3 linked regions of the Homo sapiens genome follow. The protein of the gene in region 2 interacts with the protein of the main gene of each other region in a pairwise test. Each region holds a gene or a part of one and is shown on either strand. Other genes may lie near its edges.

Region 1 (7,388 bases), on a different chromosome or scaffold from region 2:
GGAATACCTTTTACATCACTACCATATAAAATATATATACAATTGAAGAAGTAAAAAGTTGCAAAACAACACATGCCCATATGTTGTGTGCAGTGAACAGACATTCTCTATTCCATTGTCTTTTTCTTTTTTAAAAACATGGTCTGTAACCCATTACATCAATTTCAAAATCCTCTAAGGAGCTGCTAACCGGGTGTGAAAAACACCTAAATATGGGATAGAATCCCTAAAATCAATATTTCCCCAAGAGTTTCTTATATTTCAGATGTACGAGTAATATCTACGCCTATCAATGCCTACCACCACCACTGGTAAACAAGATAACTCTAGAAGAAACTTGGATATATTTATATTTTTAAACTAGTTATATATTTTTACTAGTATTAGTTTTTAGTTATCTTCCATTTTAGGAAATTGATACTGATTTTCCACTTACGGGAATGATTTAAAGTTTTCTCCTAAAATAAATGTACTTAAATTTAAAAAGCAATTTAAGGAAAAACATTAATAAACAGCATAGGAAATATTCAGACATGTTGAAAATCACAAATACGTGTCTCATGTATCTGAAGTGTGGGAAACTATCTGGCACCATTCTATCATGATAGAACAAGAAATGGACGTTCCTTCACATTAGATCTGCTTTTGCGCAGCTCTACTAATTACTCCCAGAACGTTAGGTTACATGACATGATATTAGTTTACATTTGGCTTTTCCCCAGCAGCCGCTTAAACCTGGGAGGTCCTTTTTCCAAGCACTTGGGCAGTTTCGAGTTTGGCATCCTTTTGCACAGTGATTTGTGTGGATCTTGAGATGCTGTGAGCTTGCCATCCCTTCTTGAGATCATCACGTGGTCTGTCTTTCTCTGTCAGGCTTTCAAGTTAATTATTTCCTGTTTTTCTGAGTCTGTTCCTTATCCCCCTTCCCAGGCCACCCTCTACCCTCACCTTCACCTCCCCCCAGCAGTTCTACAGAAAATCAGTCTTTGTCTCTTGGCCTGCCCTAGAACACCTTCCAACAAGAGCCTTGGAGTTAATTAAATGTGTGGCAATTTCAGAGCAAAAATTTATTACTGGGTACAATCAGAAATTACTTTTAGAGTTCTTTGCTTTTTGGTAACATTCTCTGTCACTTACTGACCTTTTGTTCTCAGTCCCTGCCTGCTTAAGGTACTGTGTGAACCAATCTGCCCAAGCTGTTTTCTCTCTGTGTGACTGCTTAAGATCTCTGGCATGAGTTATACTGTCACTCCTCTCAGGAACTCCCACGTTGGGCTTGATTTTCCCAGCAAACTTGATCTGTTGTTCATGTAACATTGTTTCTGCTGCTGTCCCATTCCTTCTCATCAAGGCCAGAGCCCCCTCCTCCTGTTGTCTTTAACAAGGCAGGGTGCTAAACTGAGCTGAGCTGCACCCCCACAGAAGCTTTGTGCAAAGAAGCCACTCCATTTCTTCAATCTTTGCATCCTCATCCCATCCCCATGCCCAGAAATCTTCCCAAACTAGCCTTTTATGGTCATCCAGCCTTAATTTCTCTTTTCTTCCAAATCCCAGCTAAGTTTTGTCTTAAGTCTCTAACTGGGTTTGGTTACATTGTTCAATGTCCTTTCCCCCCAGTAACCCCCCTGCCATCCTAGTTTTCTCTCCCCTATTAGCTCCTCCTAAGCACGCATCTGAACTCCTTAAATCTTTTACCTAGTGTAGTTTCCTGGTCATCTCCTTTTAGCCCACTACAAATTGAAGTGTAAAAAACCCTTACAATAAACATGTGTGCGTGCACACGCATGCATGGTATATACGTACACATTTAAACTAGGAGAAAGGATATAAACACAAAATAGACTGTCCAGTACTATTTGGGGGTGGGAGGTGGAGAAGAGCCCTAGGCCCTAGAAGTTCCCCTGGGGTTCTTATTAATATGTTGAACATATTTCACCCTGCAACCCAAATCTGTACCACTTTCGTACACAGCTTAAACAAAGAAGAGTCTTGATGCTTATTGAGGATTTAGATAACTACTTCCCGTTAAGAAGATATTTTTAAAATTGTGTTTTCATTATGACTCCATCTCCATTTATTGATCGAGGGATTTCTTGCCTCACTTAACTCCATAATCTGTTACTCAGATTAAGAAAATGAGAAAACTATTGTTTGGTAGTTTGAGTACAGGCTTTAAAGTGATACTTTGGAGGCTGGATGATTCAAGTACTATAATCCAAGAAAAGCAACTAAATGATCATGCAGAACGTGTTTTTATGCATTACTCTTTATCGATTAGGCATGCAAGGAAATGAATCGGATTAAATGTTTCGTAGATGTGCTCTGTTATAGTACAGAAACTTCCTAGTGTAAAAACATCCAACAGAAAGCACTAAGAGATAGGAAATAATACATGTAAAATGCAAATGTGTAAGTCATTCAACACATTTTGAGTATCATGTTTTTTTATGTAAAAAACAATGTTACGTATAGTAAATTCTCCGCTATTAGGAGCAGAAAAGTACCCTCTATTTTGGCACTTCCCTTCTTCCGCCACCATTAGCTAGTATACAGCTGTACATATGTGCTTTTGGGGTGAATGTGAAACCTGTATATTCACTGTTTACCTTCGACCCTCTACTTTGCCAGCTTTTTGTCCACTTTATTCCTTATTAATTCTTCCTCCCGGGGACTAAAGGGGAAGGGAAAAGGAGGTGAACTTGGAGTCAGTCAGGCATGCTTAGTGACCAGAACAGTTCAATTTCGTTTTTTCTAAATTTTAATTAATTAATTTATTTTTGAGACAGGGTCTTGCTATGTTGCCCAGGCTAGTCTCCAACTCCCGGGCTCAAGCTATCCACCTGCCTTGGCCTCCCAAACTGCTGGGATTATAGATGTGAGCAACTGTATCAGGCCAATAGTTCAATTTCTATACAATAAACTTGAAAGACCCGTCCAAATTATTTTATATCATTTAAGATTTTTTTCCATCCAACTGATTAAATAACTCTGTCAATTAAAGCTTGGACATCTTGAAATTGATATTTTGGTTGTTAACAGTTATTGCAACAGTATTTGACCTGTCTCTGGAAGATTTTGTAAAGAAGTAAAATTCGCTGTAGGAATCTATCTGGGGAAGAAAGGGAACTATAATTTGCTCTGTACCTGTTACATGAGAGAATCTGAACTGTGCAGTGTACACTGTTTTATCCTTTTATGGTTTACAATTACCCAGAAAAGTGAGTAAAATGCCCGTTTTACAGATGTGGAGGCTGAGGTTCAGAGATACTGACCAGTCTCTCGGTTTATAAGGAAAACCATGGCTAACAGCCTCCAGAGCACAAGCCCTTTACAAAGGAGGGTTGGAGATTGCAGGCAGCTTTTACTTATCTATGCTGCCCACGCTTAACATGGAAAACTGAAAGCTGACCTTGTGTTCCTTTAAAAAATCTCCAAGGAAGTCGGCTGCAGAGACTTCATGGTAACTCATGAGAAACAAAATGCTTTTGTGGATTAACAACTGTCTTTATTCCAATGGAGTTTTTTGGGGGTTTTTTCTTCTTCTTAAAGACAAAAAAATAATCTACCGCTGACACTCAACAAGAACCGTCGTAGAATGGACAAGTCTTCGGATCGCGCTGTGCAGATCCCTCAGCAAATTGTGACAGTATTATGGCACTTTGGCCTAAGCTGTTAAAGAGACGATGTAATGAACAGCTGCGGATTTCTGAGGCACAATTGTGTGACACAGGAAGCCCAAGTGTTGGCCATCCTCAACGAAGGCAGCTGCCGGGCTCCGGTTTGCTTCAGCAAACCCTCACCCCTCGCCTTCAACCAGGCGGGTGTCGTCAGCTGTCCGCCAGCTGCTGCCCGCGCCTTTCCGCCCCCGCGCGCCGGCCAAGGCCGAGGCGGCCGGGACCAGAGGCGCGCGCCCTCAGTGCATGTGACGGGGTGGGAGGGGGAGGTTTCTTCCTCCCCCGTCCCCAAGCCCCGCCTTCTCCAGAGAGGCTGCGGCTTCCTATTGCGCCACCACCGAAATGACCACCGTGCCAGCCAATCAAGACGTGATTCATGAAGTAAGACCCGCCCCTTACTGGTCCCCAGGTTCCTTCCCGCTCACGCCGGAGTCACTTCCGAAGAGAGAACCGCCATGAAGAGAGAAGGGGGTGCCGCCCACCTCTGCTCCGACAGCCTCCCGGAGTCCCAGCAGCAAGACGGCAACCACGCACCCAACTTCTCCAGCCACGGCTCATGCCGCCGTCGCCAGCGGCGCCGACATGACAAGGCGCTGCATGCCCGCTAGGCCAGGTTTCCCCTCATCCCCAGCCCCGGGGTCGTCGCCCCCGCGCTGCCATCTGAGACCCGGTAGTACCGCCCATGCTGCAGCGGGAAAGAGAACAGAGAGTCCTGGGGACAGGTACCGTGCAGAGGGCTTGAGAAGGGGCCGGGTCGCGGGGGCAAGGGTATGAGGGGAGGGCTGCAGACCGCCGCTCTTCCAGTTCCCGCCATCCTCCGCGAGCTCAGGCGTTGGCATTTCGGGGCCTGGCAAATCCCCGCCCCGCCTCCGCGCAGGGGCTACTGGGAGTTGGAGTTTGCTTCTCTGTAGTTGGGCAGCTGCTCTTGGTCTAGTGACCACCAGCCTGGACAGCTACGGAGAACCCGCCTTAGGTAGAAAGAAAGTGATTTTTTTCCTTTGCAAGAGTTTGACCCGGGACCCTAACTGCTTAATGCATATTTAGATCGTTTTCTGTACGTTGTCAGTTCTACTGATCCTAGTGGTTTAGTAATATAAACCTTTTCTATGTTGTGGGTGAAATTATGTAACCTGTGATGAGGGAATCCCTTCCACGAATTACTTTGTAGTCCAGCGTGCACGCTAGTTCATACTTAAAAGAACTTGCAGATTTGGAATGTGACGTGTTTTCTCTTTCAGTAACTTCACGCCTCTCCAAGAGGCTAATTTTTTTGTAAAGATTTTGTGGGAGCTATGTAATGAGATGGGGAGTTTCATCTAATGACATCCTCTGACAATAAAACATGTTTAAATTCCCTACGAACTTGGTACTGTCTTTTATTTTAAGTTAAATTGTATTAAGTTTTAACAATATTCATGTTACTAATACTGTGGTACAGGCCCACAATCCCTTATCTTAACTCTGAAAGCCAGAAAGCTATGAAAACCAAAACGTTTTCAGTAAGTTTGGCACCACATCTTACTGGGCAGCCAGATCTGACTAAAACTAATGTAAGGCTGTTTGTGGTCTTTATCCCATTAAGTGTGAATATTCATGTTTTGCTGGAGAAATGTCAGTGGATTTGATTACAGGTTGCAGCACCAGACCCCACTGGGGACTTTCCATAATACATCCAAGTTATCCCCTTCCTAAAATCTGATAAATTCAGAATTCTAAAACACATTTGGCCCCAGAAGGTTCAGATAAGGGTTTGTGAAACTGTTATAATTGTGTGTGTGTGTGTGTTTTTTTTTAAGCCAGTTGTTAAATAAGCAGTGGACATTTTGTGTGCATATGAACTTAGAGAACCTACCTCTTGAAAGTTACATTCATGGTTATTTTACAGGTTTCTTGTATGTTTTACCCAAAATCATTTTTTCTCTTTCTGGTGTATTAATCAAAAAGGAGTCTGAGGTCCAATATTTTAGGGAAGAGATACAGTGTTACATTTAGTAAAATGCATTTAGAATTATCTTGTGTGCAACAAATGAGCTGCTTCTGGGTCCCTTCCCATCTCTCCTCAATCAATAACAAGATCAATAACAAGGTATCATCCTTCTTCCCTTTGCAGAACCTCCAACATTTACTCTGGTGGAGTTAATTTGCCTAGTATAATTTATGTAAACAAATGCATATATTCTTCCATAGCCCGTCACTCATATTCATCTCATAAGCACTTAGCTTTTATACCAGCATCTCAAACAAGCGTGATGGACTTGGTAAACCAGTAAAGATGTGCATTGCTCTTCTAATGTGACCAGTAAAGTGTACAAGAAGCTTAACCTTCAAGAAACTTGGATTGTTGGAATTTTCACTGAGCATTCCAACCTCATAGTGGATGAATGTTTAGGGAAATCAATAGTCTATAGCTTATTCTCTTTCAGTAAAATGATACATTTTAGCAAAATTTACCAGAAAGTTAATTTTTTGTTCAGCATATCATAACATCCCCTTTTTTGCAGCTGACAACTCTACAGTGAACAAATCAGAATACGAATTCTGGTAATGGATTCCTATTTCACTTTAGCATTATTGCCAATGTCAGAACTTGATTAGTTAAGCCAGATAATGAAATCCAGTCTTTACGGTACAGAAATTCTTAAAAATTAATTTGGTTTTTGTTATTCTTGTTAACTTTCTTCCTTTTCTCCTTGTGTTTTTCCCAAGCAATGTGTTATTTTTGTAACTATCTTAAGGATTCTTTGATAAAAAATTAAGAATTTGAAACTAGTTGTGACAACTCATTCTAATTTCTGCTGTTACTTAGATTAACATCTTAATGTATAAAGAGGGTAGCATAAGTTTGGTATTTTTCTTTTCTGCCCTTGTCCAGCAAACTCCTCTTCAACTGATTCCCTAGATCAGCCAAATCACCTGTATTGCCATTCTACCATCTACTGTTCTACTCTTGTTATGAGAGTCTGTTCAAGTTTTACTCCATTTTTATAATCCCCATTATTCATTTGGCATACATCTATTGAGTTTTTTTTTAGCTTGTTATTCTAAATTTTAAAACGCAGCTGTGCTTAGATACCAAGTAATTATTTTGTATCAATGTCTGCAGAGAACAAGTAGGTTCATATGCTGATACCCAAGATGTTGCATTCTACCATGTAGCCGTGAACATTTCAGTCTTAAGAAGCACTCTGTACTAATTCCTTGGGTCTACACACCAGTCTGACCTATTTAAGTACTATAAATAATATAAACCTCAGTTGTATTTTTATAAATGAACTCCTATAGGAAGTGATACGTTATATTTTCTGTTTTTTTAATGAACAGTTTAGCAAAGCATTGTTACCATTGTCAGAACTTTATTAAACCAAATAGTGAAATCCAGCCTTTATTTTATAAATCTTTCTCCATTTAATCTGAGTTATGAAGGTTTTAATATTTGCTTATATGATGCCATATTATGCTTTTATTTTCAGGAAGCAGTCAATTATAGATTTCTTCAAACCAGCTTCAAAACAAGGTATGTACACTGTTGATGCATTTTTTGTGGGCTATTTTGGGGGTGAGGAGAGAGACAGATTCAACTTTAAAACCTACTCTAAACTGTTTTAGTAAACGTAGTGTTCAAAATTGAAAATAAAATGAAGATGCAGTATTTTGTTTTACAAGGATAAACTGAAGTTCTAAATATGAAAGTCTTTTTGCTGTTATGTTTTCTTA
Region 2 (7,516 bases):
AATTTTTGAACATAGATCATAAAATATAAAGATTATAACAATTATAATAAAGGACAAAATATAAAAAATGGCCCCAGTTCAATAAAGTCACTGACAATGTATATATACACAGTAATCTATCTGCAAGTTTTAGAGCAGGAGCAAAACTTACCATTGTAGGCTCAGTGTTTAAAATTGGTGTAGTTTTTTACTTAGCATTCAATTACTAAAGAATTTTTTTAAAATCCTAAAAAATGAAAACACTATTATCCATCCAAATGAACAGTGGAAGTGAACTGAGGAAATTTTTTAAAAGGGCATATAAACCTTTACTCCCACTGAGAATATCTGGAAATATGTTTTAAAAACAAATCTATCTTAAAATAGAAAATAAGGTGACTTTTTAGAAATATATTTATAATAATTGTAAAAAAAAAATGGTGCATAAAAACAACCAAAATTTAGAAAAGTGTTATTCTTGCGATTAGAACTTACTTTTGACTCAGATGTTGTACTTCACTTTCAATTAAATTAAAGAAAAATTTGAGTAGCGTCAGGTGGAGCACCTTGGAGCCAATATTTTCTGAAATTTGATGACAAAAGCTTTCATTGAAAAGGCAAGACCTGAAAAACATGAACCCAAAAATCTATAACATACAAGCAATTCACTAAGTCATTTGTGAACAAAATATTTCTCCTTCTAGAATACTGCTGGAATTTTAATAAAATTTTCTTAAAATAGAAAGTTCAACAAAATTTTATGAATATATTTCTTCCTTCAAAAATTAAACAATGTCAAATATCTCATGAGTACTTAATTCTTAATAAATAGATCTAATTTCTCAATTTTTCAAGTTATTATAATATTTAATGACTAGCAGGTACTCTCCCTTTGTGCTCTTTATTTCACTGATGAGAACAAAGATTATAGATTTCATTAAGTCCTTTTGATTTAAATGACCAGCTAACCTCTCAATTTATAATACTCGCCAGAATCCTCCTCTTTCTTACCCAAGATTACTTTCTTTTTCATTAGTTAGTAAATGAAGATTATTTAGGGCTACTTTTTTAGCGTTTTTAATATTCATTATTTTATTTTCTTTCTGTCTTCTAGAGCAGTCCTCTCCAACTGAACTTTCTGTGATGATGTATATGTTCTACTAGACACTTGAAATGTGGCTTGTATACCCAAGGACCCACATTTTTAATTACTTTGTCTGAATAAAATTTAAATATAAATAGATATGGCTAGTGGCTATTGGGTCAGACAGCACACTTCTATAATATATTTCTAAAGAGAATAGAAGATTACTCAGAACTCTAGGATTTAAGAAATAGTGTCTAGGTAACACTATTTATTACAATCTCCCACTTTTCTTATTGATTATATCAACAATGCACTTATAACTTTCTACCTCTGTCTCCACTTCCGCTGTCTTCTTTTTTAATACAACATTCTCAGGAGAGTCCTTAGTAGCTTTAACAATTTATTTAATATTCAATCTATCTATAAGATCCTTCATGCCCACATAGTTAATCAGTCTTTCTGAAAACTGTCAGAGATAGAGAACTTACGTTTCTCTATGCATTATGGAATATTTCAAATATATACAAAAGTAGAGACTAGTATTACTTAGCTCATTCATATTCCTACCACTTCCCTAAGCACCTCCACAGTACCCCATTATTTTGAAATGAAATCTGGGTATTTTTGTTTAAAAGTCTATTTTTAAGCTGCCCAAAATCTATCACCTACAGCATCAATAAATTCATCCAAACCTTTATTAAGTACTTACATTCCAGGCATTATATTAGATATTAAGGATGGAGATATTTAAGACTGAACACCTTCTGTAAGAGGGAAGTTTAAAGAAAGAAAAACAAGACTGAGCACCTCTCTTTAAGAAAGTCATAGGCCTGATGTGAATGACAAACTTAAAGGAAAGGTCAAGAGTAAGAAAGTGGCAGCTAAATTGCATTTTAAGGGAAAACTATGGCTGAGCATGGTGGCCCATTCCTGTAATCCCAGTGCTTTGGGAGGACAAGGTAGGAGGATTGCTTGAGCCCAGGAATTTGAGACCAGCCTGGGCAACACAGGGAGACTTCACCTCTACAAAAAATTTAAAAATTAGTCATGTAGGCCTGGCACAGTAGCTCATGCCTGTAATCCCAGCACTTTGGGAAGTGGAGGCGGGTGGATCACCTAAGGTCAGGAGTTTGAGACCAGCCTGACCAACATGGTAAAACTCCATCTCTACCAAATACAAAAAAAAATCAGCAAGGCGTGGTGGCGCATGCCTGTAATCCCAGCTACTTGGGAGGCTGAGGCAGGAGAATCGCTTGATCCTGCGAGGCGGAGGTTGCAGTGAGCCGAGATCGCACCACTGCACTCCAGCCTGGGCAACAGAGCGAAACTTCTTCTCAAAAAACAAACAAACAAACTACAACCACAACCACAACAACAAAATTGGCCAGGTGTGGTGGTGGGCACCTGTAGTCCCAGGTACTCAGGAGGCTGAGGCAGGAGAGTGGCCTGAACCCAGGAGCTCAAGATTGCAGTGAGCTATGATCCCGCCACTGCACACTGTCCTTGGTGACAGTGAGATTTGAAAAGGAAAGAAGAGAAAAGAAAAGGGAAAAGGGAAAGGAAGAAAAGTGAAGACAAGGGACAAAGGAGAAGAGAGGAGAGGAGAGAGGAGAGAAGAGAGAAGAGAAGTGAAACGAAGCAGTGAGGCATGGTGGCTCATGCCTTTAATCCTGGCACTTTGGGAGGCTGAGGCGGGCAGAAAACTTGAGCTCAAGTGGTGGAGACCAGCCTGGGAAACATGGTAAAACCCCATTTCTACAAAAAATACAAAACTAGCCAGGCGTGGGAGCACATGCCTGTAGTCCCAGCTATTCAGGAGGCTGAGGCGGGAGGATCACCTGAGCCTGGGAGTTTCAGGCTGCAGTGAGCCGTGATTGTGCCATTGCACTCCAGTCTGGGCAACAGAGTGTCTTAAAAAACAAAACAAAACAAAACAAACAAACAAACAAAAAAGCTAGGAAATTCGGAAAACATAAGAGCAAAAGACAGGATATGGAAAATAACTATTGGACACATTCAAGAAAGTGGTGAAGATGAGAACTGAGACATATATAAGGGCTAACTCATGAAGGGTCTTACGTATTTCGCTAAGAAATCTGAACCATCTTCTATAGGTAGTTCAATGTATGTGAGTCAATGAAGGACTTTAATATGGGAAATGACAAGATCACTTTGGAAAGAGCATACTGTGGGGGGGTACTTTGGAAGAAAAATTAAAAGGAAAAAAGTAGACCCAAGATCAATAAAGCAGCTACTGCAATAGTTTATATAAGAAGAAACAGGAACTTTAAAATAAAGACAATTGACAGTGAAGAAAGGAATAGATTTGGAAATTATGAAGGATGTCAGCCACATAAACTCTATTTTCTCACATCATATACCTATGCTGGGCTTGTACTGTTGGGCTTGTACTTTTGTGCGGTATTGTTTACATCTCAGTCACTTTCAAAGTGCAGGAACTGTTATTTAAATCATCTTTTTAATCCCTAAAATGTAGTACAGTGTCTGGCTCTCCGTAAGTACTCAAGAATTTGTTAAAAGAATGAATAAATGCATGCTGGTTAACTGATTAGCTCACTTTAAATATATCACAACCAAGATGGTATGTGAATCTTTATGATCTCAAAGAGCTAACCAGAGGTCTAGCCTTTGCATGGCTAGTCAGGTGTCCTTTCTCCACTATGAACCTCCTGAAACTGGACACTTAAATTAAAAAAAAAAAAAAAAAAAAAAAGATCTTCCCAGCCAGGCGTGATGGTCCACTCCTATAATCCCAGGACTTTGGGAGCCCAAGTCAGGCAGATCACTTGAGGCCAGCAATTCGAGACCAGCCTGGCCAACATGGTAAAAGCCCATCTCTACTAAAAATGAAAAAATACAAAAATTAGCTGGACGTGGAGGCACATGCCTGTAACTCTAGCTACTTGGAAGGCTAAGGCATAAGAATTGCTTGAGCCTGGGAGGTAGAGGTTACAGTGAGCCAAGATCAGGCCACTGCACTCCAGCCTGGGTGACAGAGCGAGACTCATGTCTCAAAAAAAGAAAAGATCTTCCCAGAAGAATAAGGGTTATCAAATACAGTTATTTGAATAGCAAGGGGAAAACATTTTCTGTTAGGGAGAAAGAAGGTGAAACAGAATTTCTGGAGACACTAACAACTGAAAGACAGAGGAAGGTCTAGGCAGTGACAGCATGTGCAGAAGCATAAAAGAGATGACATATTTAGGAAATATTAAGTTCTGTTTTAAAATTCAAATTTCTAGCTGAAAAAAATATAACTGAAGCCCTAAAATAGATACTATAGTTACAAATGTCTACACTTTTGGTGACAAAAACTGATGATATGCATATTCCATAAATTAATTTTCTTCATTTAAAAAACAATACACAAATTTCTATTTTGTTAAAAATAATAATGATTTGGCTTTCTAGTGAGTCCATTTCATGCATTCATTTTTTATTTTTTTAGGAAACAGACTGAAAAACATGACCAATATAGATTTGCCTTTTCATAAGTTTTGCAATAAATACAATACATATTTGTATTTGCAACAAAACTTTTCCAAAAGTAGAAAGATACTTCTTTCATCAGTATCTTAAAAAAATAATTAGCATAACAACTACTCAATGAAATGTAGCATCGTCAAATGTGAAATTCCTTACCTGATAAGGACTTCTACTAAAGACCATGCTCCTTTCATACAAGTTGGACACTGAAACAACTCTAAATAATATCTCGACATGGCTGGAGACTTCCAAGGAGGATGCAGGTGAAGAAGAGCTGACAATATATGAAAGTATCGACCAGAAAATGTATCTATGTTATCCTATTATTTAAAAATAAACAAACAAATAAAACACTATAGCTAAAAGTAGTTTGACTCTCTAATTCAGTCTAAAACCAAAACAGTAACCCTGGCCTAACTTTCTTTTTTGAGACGGAGTCTGGCTCTGTCACCCAGGCTGGAGTGCAGTGGCACGATCTTGGCTTACCTCAACCTCCGCCTCCTGGGTTCAAGCGATTTTTCTGCCTCAGCCTCCTGAGTAAGTAGCTGGGACTACAGGCACCCACCACCATGCCTGGCTAATTTTTGTATTTTTAGTAGAGATGGGATTTCACTATGTTGGCCAGGCTAGTCTTGAACTCCCGACCTTGTGATCTGCCCACCTCAGCCTCCCAAAGTGCTGGGATTACAGGTGTGAGCCACCACGCCCGGCCTAACGCTGGCCTAAGTTTCTTGCCAAATATACGTGTTTAGACAAAGGAGAGCAGATGGAAGCATCATGTTTAGCTAATTAAATAAAGCAACTGAGAGACAGGCACACTCTATGTACAGCTGATACCTGAATAACAGGTTTTAACTGCATGGGTCCACTTACACATGAATTTTTTTCCAATAAATGCAGCCTACCCTTCACGTCCATAGGTTCTACAACTGCAATTAAATACAGTATTCTGTATTTGGGAGGCCTCGGCCTCTGAAAGTGCTGGAATTACAGGTGTGAGCCACAGCACCCGGCCTACTAAGAAGTTTTAATTTCCTCACCTGTAAAATAAAGATAATTCCTGCCCTTGCTGCTGAATGAGATTATGTAGTTCAAAGAGGATGATATGTATGACTGTATCTTATTAGTTATTGTATTAATTATTTTCTATTGCCTTCAGTAGTGAAGGAAATTTTTTTCCCTAGTAGTAAGGGAAAATTTTACAATTACCTCTAAAAGAAAAACCTTTAAAAATACAGTATTCACAGGATGTAAAACCTTCGTATGTGGAGGGCTGACTTTTCCTATAAGTGCAGGTTCTGAAGAAGCAACTGCAGGACTTGATTATGTGCAGATTTCAGTATCCACAAAGGTCCTGAAACCAATATCCTGTGACAGCAAGGGATGACTCTATCTATACATTGGGTAATCCCTTCTATTAACACTACCTTAGATGGAATACACATTTTCCTTTTCACAATTATAGTGAGATTTAAGAGGTCTCAAATGTTACCTGAAAGGAACTAAAAGTAACAAACTATTCATGCAACATGCTTACTTATCACCAACATAACATACCTGACAAAGCTTATGCCTGTTATGTTATCAAATTAGCACCTTGGTGAAGGGCATGATTAGAAAGCGATCTTTGAATATTTGTTCCTATTGGTTTACACAGTTTGGGTATGTTCCCAGCATGGGCAACATAGCAAGACTCCATCTCTACAAAAAATTTAAAAATTAGCCAGGCATGGTGGCATGCGCCTACAGTCCCAGCTACTTGGGAGGCTGAAGCAGGGGGACTACTTGAGCCCAGGAGGTTGAGGCCACAGTGAGCCATGATCACACCACTGCAGTCCAGCCTGGACAACAGAGAGGGAACTTGCCTCTATTTCTTTTTAAACAAAGAGTATGTTCATTATGTATACTATAAATAAAAATGATAATCATCAATGTACTAATGGAGTAATTTACCAAATGTAATTCTAGATCACCATAATCTGAATTTTATATTTGATACTTTACTGCCGTGAGAAAAATTAGATAACCTTTTTCCCCAAAACAAAATTATCTTAGAAATCCTGAGAAAATCATTAGCTAAAGCACTAAGAGTAGTACCTAGTATGTAGCTGGAAAACAGAACAGTAGTAATAAATGGGTACTGCATTAGTGAAATGAAGAAAAAAAAACACTGAACAGGGAAAATAAACTGTAAACATACAAAAAGTGAGAAAATGTTCACATTTTAACATTCTTTGAAAAAAAGATTATAAATCCTTAAGGCTGCTCTTACCTGTAGAACGTTCTCTAGAAGGGCATGAAGAACGCATACAGGAGGGATATAATGTGCCTGCAAAGTGGAAAGTTCCTCAATTGCTTCTTTAAAAAAATGTCCTTCTATGAGGCTTTCAATTAAATTTAATACACCTCTGGGAAATTCAGCATTTTTAACCTAAGAAAGGAAAGATTCTATGATTCAGAGAAAAGAAAGATAAAATTTTGCAATCAAATCATGAATTAGTAAGAATTTATTATTTATTTATTCATTCATTCATTTGAGACGGAGTCTCACTCTGTTACCCAGGCTGGAATGCAGTGGTGCGATCTCGGCTCACTTGCAACCTCCGTCTCCCAGGTTCAAGTGATTCTCCTGCCTCAACCTCCTGAATAGCTGGGCCTATGGATGCGTGCCACCACACCCAGCTGATTTTTGTATTCTTAGCAGAGACGGGGTTTCACCATGTTGGCCAGGCTGGTCTCAAACTCCTGACCTCAGGTGATCCACTTGCCTTGGCCTCCCAAAGTGCTGGGATTATAGGCGTAAGCCACTGCACCCAGCCTAGTAACAAATTTTAATTTCCTCATCTGTGAAATGAAGATAATTCCTGGCCTTGCTGCTGGATGAGACTATGTAGTTCAAAGAGGATGATATGTATGAATGTATTTTATTACTTGTTATATTAA
Region 3 (4,052 bases), on a different chromosome or scaffold from region 2:
AGGCGGCGAGCGCTTAATGCTGGAGTTAGCGTTCCCCAGCACAAGCTTACCAGGTCCAGCTAGGGTGACAACCCTAGAGGGAAGGCCGCAGGAGCTTTGGTCGTAGGGAGAATAGATAGGGACACTTAAGGCCAGTCCACGGGGAGGCGGCTCCATAAACAGCTCCTTGATGTTAGCAACAGACCGGGCCTACGGGAGCTAGGGCCGCCCGGCAACGTACCCAGTGTTTGTCAACAGTGGCACTCCCCCATCGCCGACCAAACCAGTCGCCCCAGAGCCTGCACGCAGCCTCACTCAAGTATGCCTTTCCTCTTTTCCTCCCAGTACATAACCTTCACTGCTGGGGGACACAGGTCCGGGTCCAGCACCATCCCCGAAACCTTCCCCCTCGGCTCTGAGAGCGCCCCCACCTGTTAGAGAGGGAACTTGGGTCCCAAGAAGACTCCAATTTGGCTCAGTTCTCTATCACCCCCTAAGCAAAAATACAAATAAGCACATCATTTTTTCTTAATAAATTTATTCACAAAAAGTGATATTGCAGAGGGTCTGGGGGCTGTACATGGGCAGGGGCTTGGTGAGCTTTGTACATGGGGCTGGGAGACAAGGGAGCCTCCAGGTGGAAGGGTATTTTTTAATAAAAAAAATAATGGAGCTACAACCACCCCCTCCCCCCTCCCCGATTAAAAAGACACAAAAATAGACGTCTCTGAGGTAAACGGGGAGCCTGGGGCTTAAGGGTGTTTAAAGGGCTTCACAGGTGCCAGAGCTTAGAGGTGTCACAGGCACCGGGGTGGCTCCTGCATCAGTTGGTAGAACAGCACGTAGCCCTCGCTGGATGCCACCTGGTTTTCACTGACAGGGGAGACACTAGGAAAAAAGGAGATCGGGAAAGGGTTGTGGTCATTCCTGTTTACTCCCTTCTCCCTACAAGACCGAACCTCAGAGCATCCAGGAAATGATCAGGCAAGACCTCCACCTCTCCTTTCACCTGGCACTCTGCTCTCCTGGAGCTTCATAGAAGGGGAGGGTGTCAGGGCTGAGTGGGAATGGGGCAGGATGTAAATAGGAGGCTATTCTCACCGAGAGTCATTGTAGACATGCCAACCAGTCTGGCACCGGCACAGGGCTGTGTAGTGGCCATAGTGGACGCTGCCTGAGTGGTTGCAAAGGGCATACAGCTGGTATACAGGACTTCCTGCGGGGTTGGAGATGATCAAGTTCTATAATCAGAGCTGTGCCCCCACTCCTTTGGCTCCTTAGGACTTTCCCCACCAGACTCACCGGCTTTGTCACTGGCAAAGTCCCCTAGGCTCAGTCGCTGCAGTGGAAAGTCTACACCTACTGAACTTTTTTTGATGGAGCCTCGGGAGGCAGAAAATCGATTCAGATCTAAGCCCTGGTTAAGGAGCATTTGGGAGGCAGTGGGCCTCTGAGGGGAACTTCTTCTATCCTGAAAGCTGTCCTCTCCCCACTCCCGACACACTGGGAGCATCTTGTGGAAAAGTGGGTGGCAGACTTTTCCTAAGGAAAATTCAATTCTCTGGAAACATGGAGGAAAGAGAATGTATGGGAGGTATCCTAAGAGAAGTAAGAATCTGAAGATTAGGATATGGAGCACGAGGATTCGAGGGAATCTTTGTACTGTCAACTTTTTGGTACTTCGAGTTTTCTGCCGACATCGGTCACACACCTGAATAAATGGCAAACAGTGTTAGGTTAATATGCTCCTAACCTCAATTGGCTTTTCTGACACCCCGATCCACATACAAATTTAGTATGCTCTTCATTACAGCTGGATCCTCTTGGCTTCTCCCCTTTGCTCTAGGAGTACTAGAACAGATCTGAGACTCCAACACAAACCCAGATACATAAATATTATTCCCCATATGAAGACATCATGCAATCCCTTTTATCCACATGGAGTCCCCCCAGGTCTCCCACCCTTACTGTATCCCTTGTGAACCTCCACATACTGGGGCATTCTCCGACTCTAGCTCTTCTTCCTTAGTGAAAAGGTTGAAACAATCCCGCAGAGACACCTTGCCCCCAGCAAATCCTTTCTGGGGGAAAAGGGGAAGAAAGGTCAACATGTTCTGAATTTCCTTTTCCAACTCTTCTCAATCAATCCAGGCTTCAGTTCTGCTCCAGAAACCCACAGGGTTCCCGCCCACACTCTGGGGGTGGGTAGGCTTGGGTCACAGAGCCCCTGTCCTGTCCACCCCGGAATCCTCTGGAATCCCACCTTGGGGATGGGCAGGGACAGGTCACAAAAAACCTCGAAGGTCGTGGAGCGATACCCACAGGCCTGGCACTTGAGACAACTTTTCAACTGGCCCACAAACAGGTCTAGACAGAAGCACAGGGACAGGAGAAAAGGTCATTGTTGGATGTTATGAGATGATTTCTTGGATTTCCATCTCTTCCTGCCCCTTTGCTTGACCCTTCCTTTCCCACTACCAACACTCCTAATCAACTCTTCACACAGCTTCACATTTGCATCATCCAGTCTTGTTCCCATACCCCTTGATAGTATCGATTTTTCCCCCCAAGCCTGTACCCCCCTCACACACTAATTTTCCCTCATTGCTTTGCCCCATTCCATACCCACAATCTTGCTGTCCTCTCGCTCCAGGTAACGTTTCCACATTAGGTTGGCTCGGTCATCATCACTACCACAGATCAAAGGAAGTGGGGAGCACCCATGAGACAGCAGGAACACTGGGCACCCCCAACACCCACTGAAACAACCTACAGAGCCCTACTCCCCATCCACACCCCTGCTCCTTCCCTAAATTTCAAGGAAAAGTCAAAAGAATAATGCCTCAATGAACTTTCTAGGGAAATCCGAGGTGAGAGGAAAAGAAAGGAATGTACATAAGGGAAGAATATGCTGTCTTCCTCTACCTGTAAATGAATTATCCCCTTCTTCAATTTGGTGACATCCCTAGCATGATCTTCTGCCTCCATCTGCTCCCTTAGACTCCCCCTCTTCCTTCCTTCCTTCTACTTCTATGTTGCTTCTCATACTATTTTCTATACTAAAGGGTTTCCCTGGACCCTACATCTTCAATCTTTACTAGTTTAGTTCTATGAAGTGTGAATGATGCTGATAAACTACGGGGAAAGGAGGTAGAGGGAACGACCCTTACCTTAACTCAGGTTCTTCTAGCAGAGCCCCTCCTCGGCGGGGTGGAGAGGGAACTGGACCATTGGCAAGTATCGGTGGAGCCCGGCGGCCTCGGCGGTTGATTTCAAGGTGTAGCCGCTCCATGAGGAGCTTCAGGAACTCTTGGGCATCCTGCTGGCTACAGCCAGACAAAGAGTATGGGCAACTGACTCCTCTCCTAGTCCACAGACACTATTCCCTGCCCAGATATTGGTCCCCACTTCCTGGATGAAGAACATCTCAAGGCTCAGAACAATGCTGCCAGGGCCCTTGCTTGGCCCTACCCCCAGACATGGCCAGAGAGAAATCCCATAGCCTCCAGCTCTCCCACCTGTATCCAGAGAAGGAGGGAACATATTTCTGGAAGACAGCTCGGAATCGAGTAGGATTCACAGCTTCGCAGGAGTCAGGGTGCCAGAGGGCACCAATCACATCTGCAAAGGCTGTTGGGATGGGAGTGGGGAAGGCAAACAAAGGTTAATGTCTGGAAGAGGCAAGCAAAAGGTGGCTCAGAGGGTAGAAAATAACCTTTAGGAAAGTAGGCACTGGGAAAAGTAGATACAACTGCCAGATTTAAGGGTTGGGGGCCACCACCAGTGGCAGATGGACCTGCAAGTGGTTGGGGAAAAAGGGACTTGAACAGAGGGAGCAGGAGTTGTTGCCCCACCTTCAGTGAGCTCTTGGGCTCGGCCTCCTCCAGGCACCTCTTGCCGGAAGTCCCTTCTCAGACAGAAGTCCCGAAGAGGTCGAGTGCTGCTCAGACACTGCAGCACAGCATTCAGGAAGCACTGGGGAGCAGTAGGGACACTGCTGTTATCTCTCCAGACCACTGCCCAGGAAGCCTTAGAAGAGCTTCAGAGCTCTCCTTCCACATGCCTTCCCCAAG

What was found.
Region 1: the proteins of SLF1 (region 2) and SLF2 interact in binary tests that used the Homo sapiens proteins (3 or more experiments, as listed by UniProt).
Region 3: the proteins of SLF1 (region 2) and USP21 interact in a two-hybrid assay, tested with the Homo sapiens proteins (one study listed by BioGRID).

Annotation. Positions count from the first base shown.
Region 1 is NC_000010.11:100,908,855-100,916,242, forward strand, and holds the start of SLF2 (SMC5-SMC6 complex localization factor protein 2), read left to right. Parts: upstream 1-4,108; 5' UTR 4,109-4,256; coding exon 4,257-4,396; coding exon of another isoform or gene 4,397-4,448; exon of another isoform or gene 4,449-6,215; intron 6,216-7,144; coding exon 7,145-7,188; intron 7,189-7,388. UniProt on the Homo sapiens protein: Plays a role in the DNA damage response (DDR) pathway by regulating postreplication repair of UV-damaged DNA and genomic stability maintenance.
Region 2 is NC_000005.10:94,663,238-94,670,753, reverse strand, and holds part of SLF1 (SMC5-SMC6 complex localization factor protein 1), read right to left. Parts: intron 7,005-7,516; coding exon 6,846-7,004; intron 4,894-6,845; coding exon 4,730-4,893; intron 604-4,729; coding exon 475-603; intron 1-474. UniProt on the Homo sapiens protein: Plays a role in the DNA damage response (DDR) pathway by regulating postreplication repair of UV-damaged DNA and genomic stability maintenance.
Region 3 is NC_000001.11:161,162,172-161,166,223, reverse strand, and holds the end of USP21 (ubiquitin carboxyl-terminal hydrolase 21), read right to left. Parts: intron 3,955-4,052; coding exon 3,834-3,954; intron 3,610-3,833; coding exon 3,498-3,609; intron 3,306-3,497; coding exon 3,150-3,305; intron 2,670-3,149; coding exon 2,605-2,669; intron 2,347-2,604; coding exon 2,243-2,346; intron 2,061-2,242; coding exon 1,974-2,060; exon of another isoform or gene 1,968-1,973; intron 1,691-1,967; coding exon 1,612-1,690; coding exon of another isoform or gene 1,390-1,611; coding exon 1,282-1,389; intron 1,196-1,281; coding exon 1,081-1,195; intron 868-1,080; coding exon 777-867; 3' UTR 501-776; downstream 1-500. Other genes in the region: PPOX (protoporphyrinogen oxidase), read right to left, coding at 51-156. UniProt on the Homo sapiens protein: Deubiquitinates histone H2A, a specific tag for epigenetic transcriptional repression, thereby acting as a coactivator.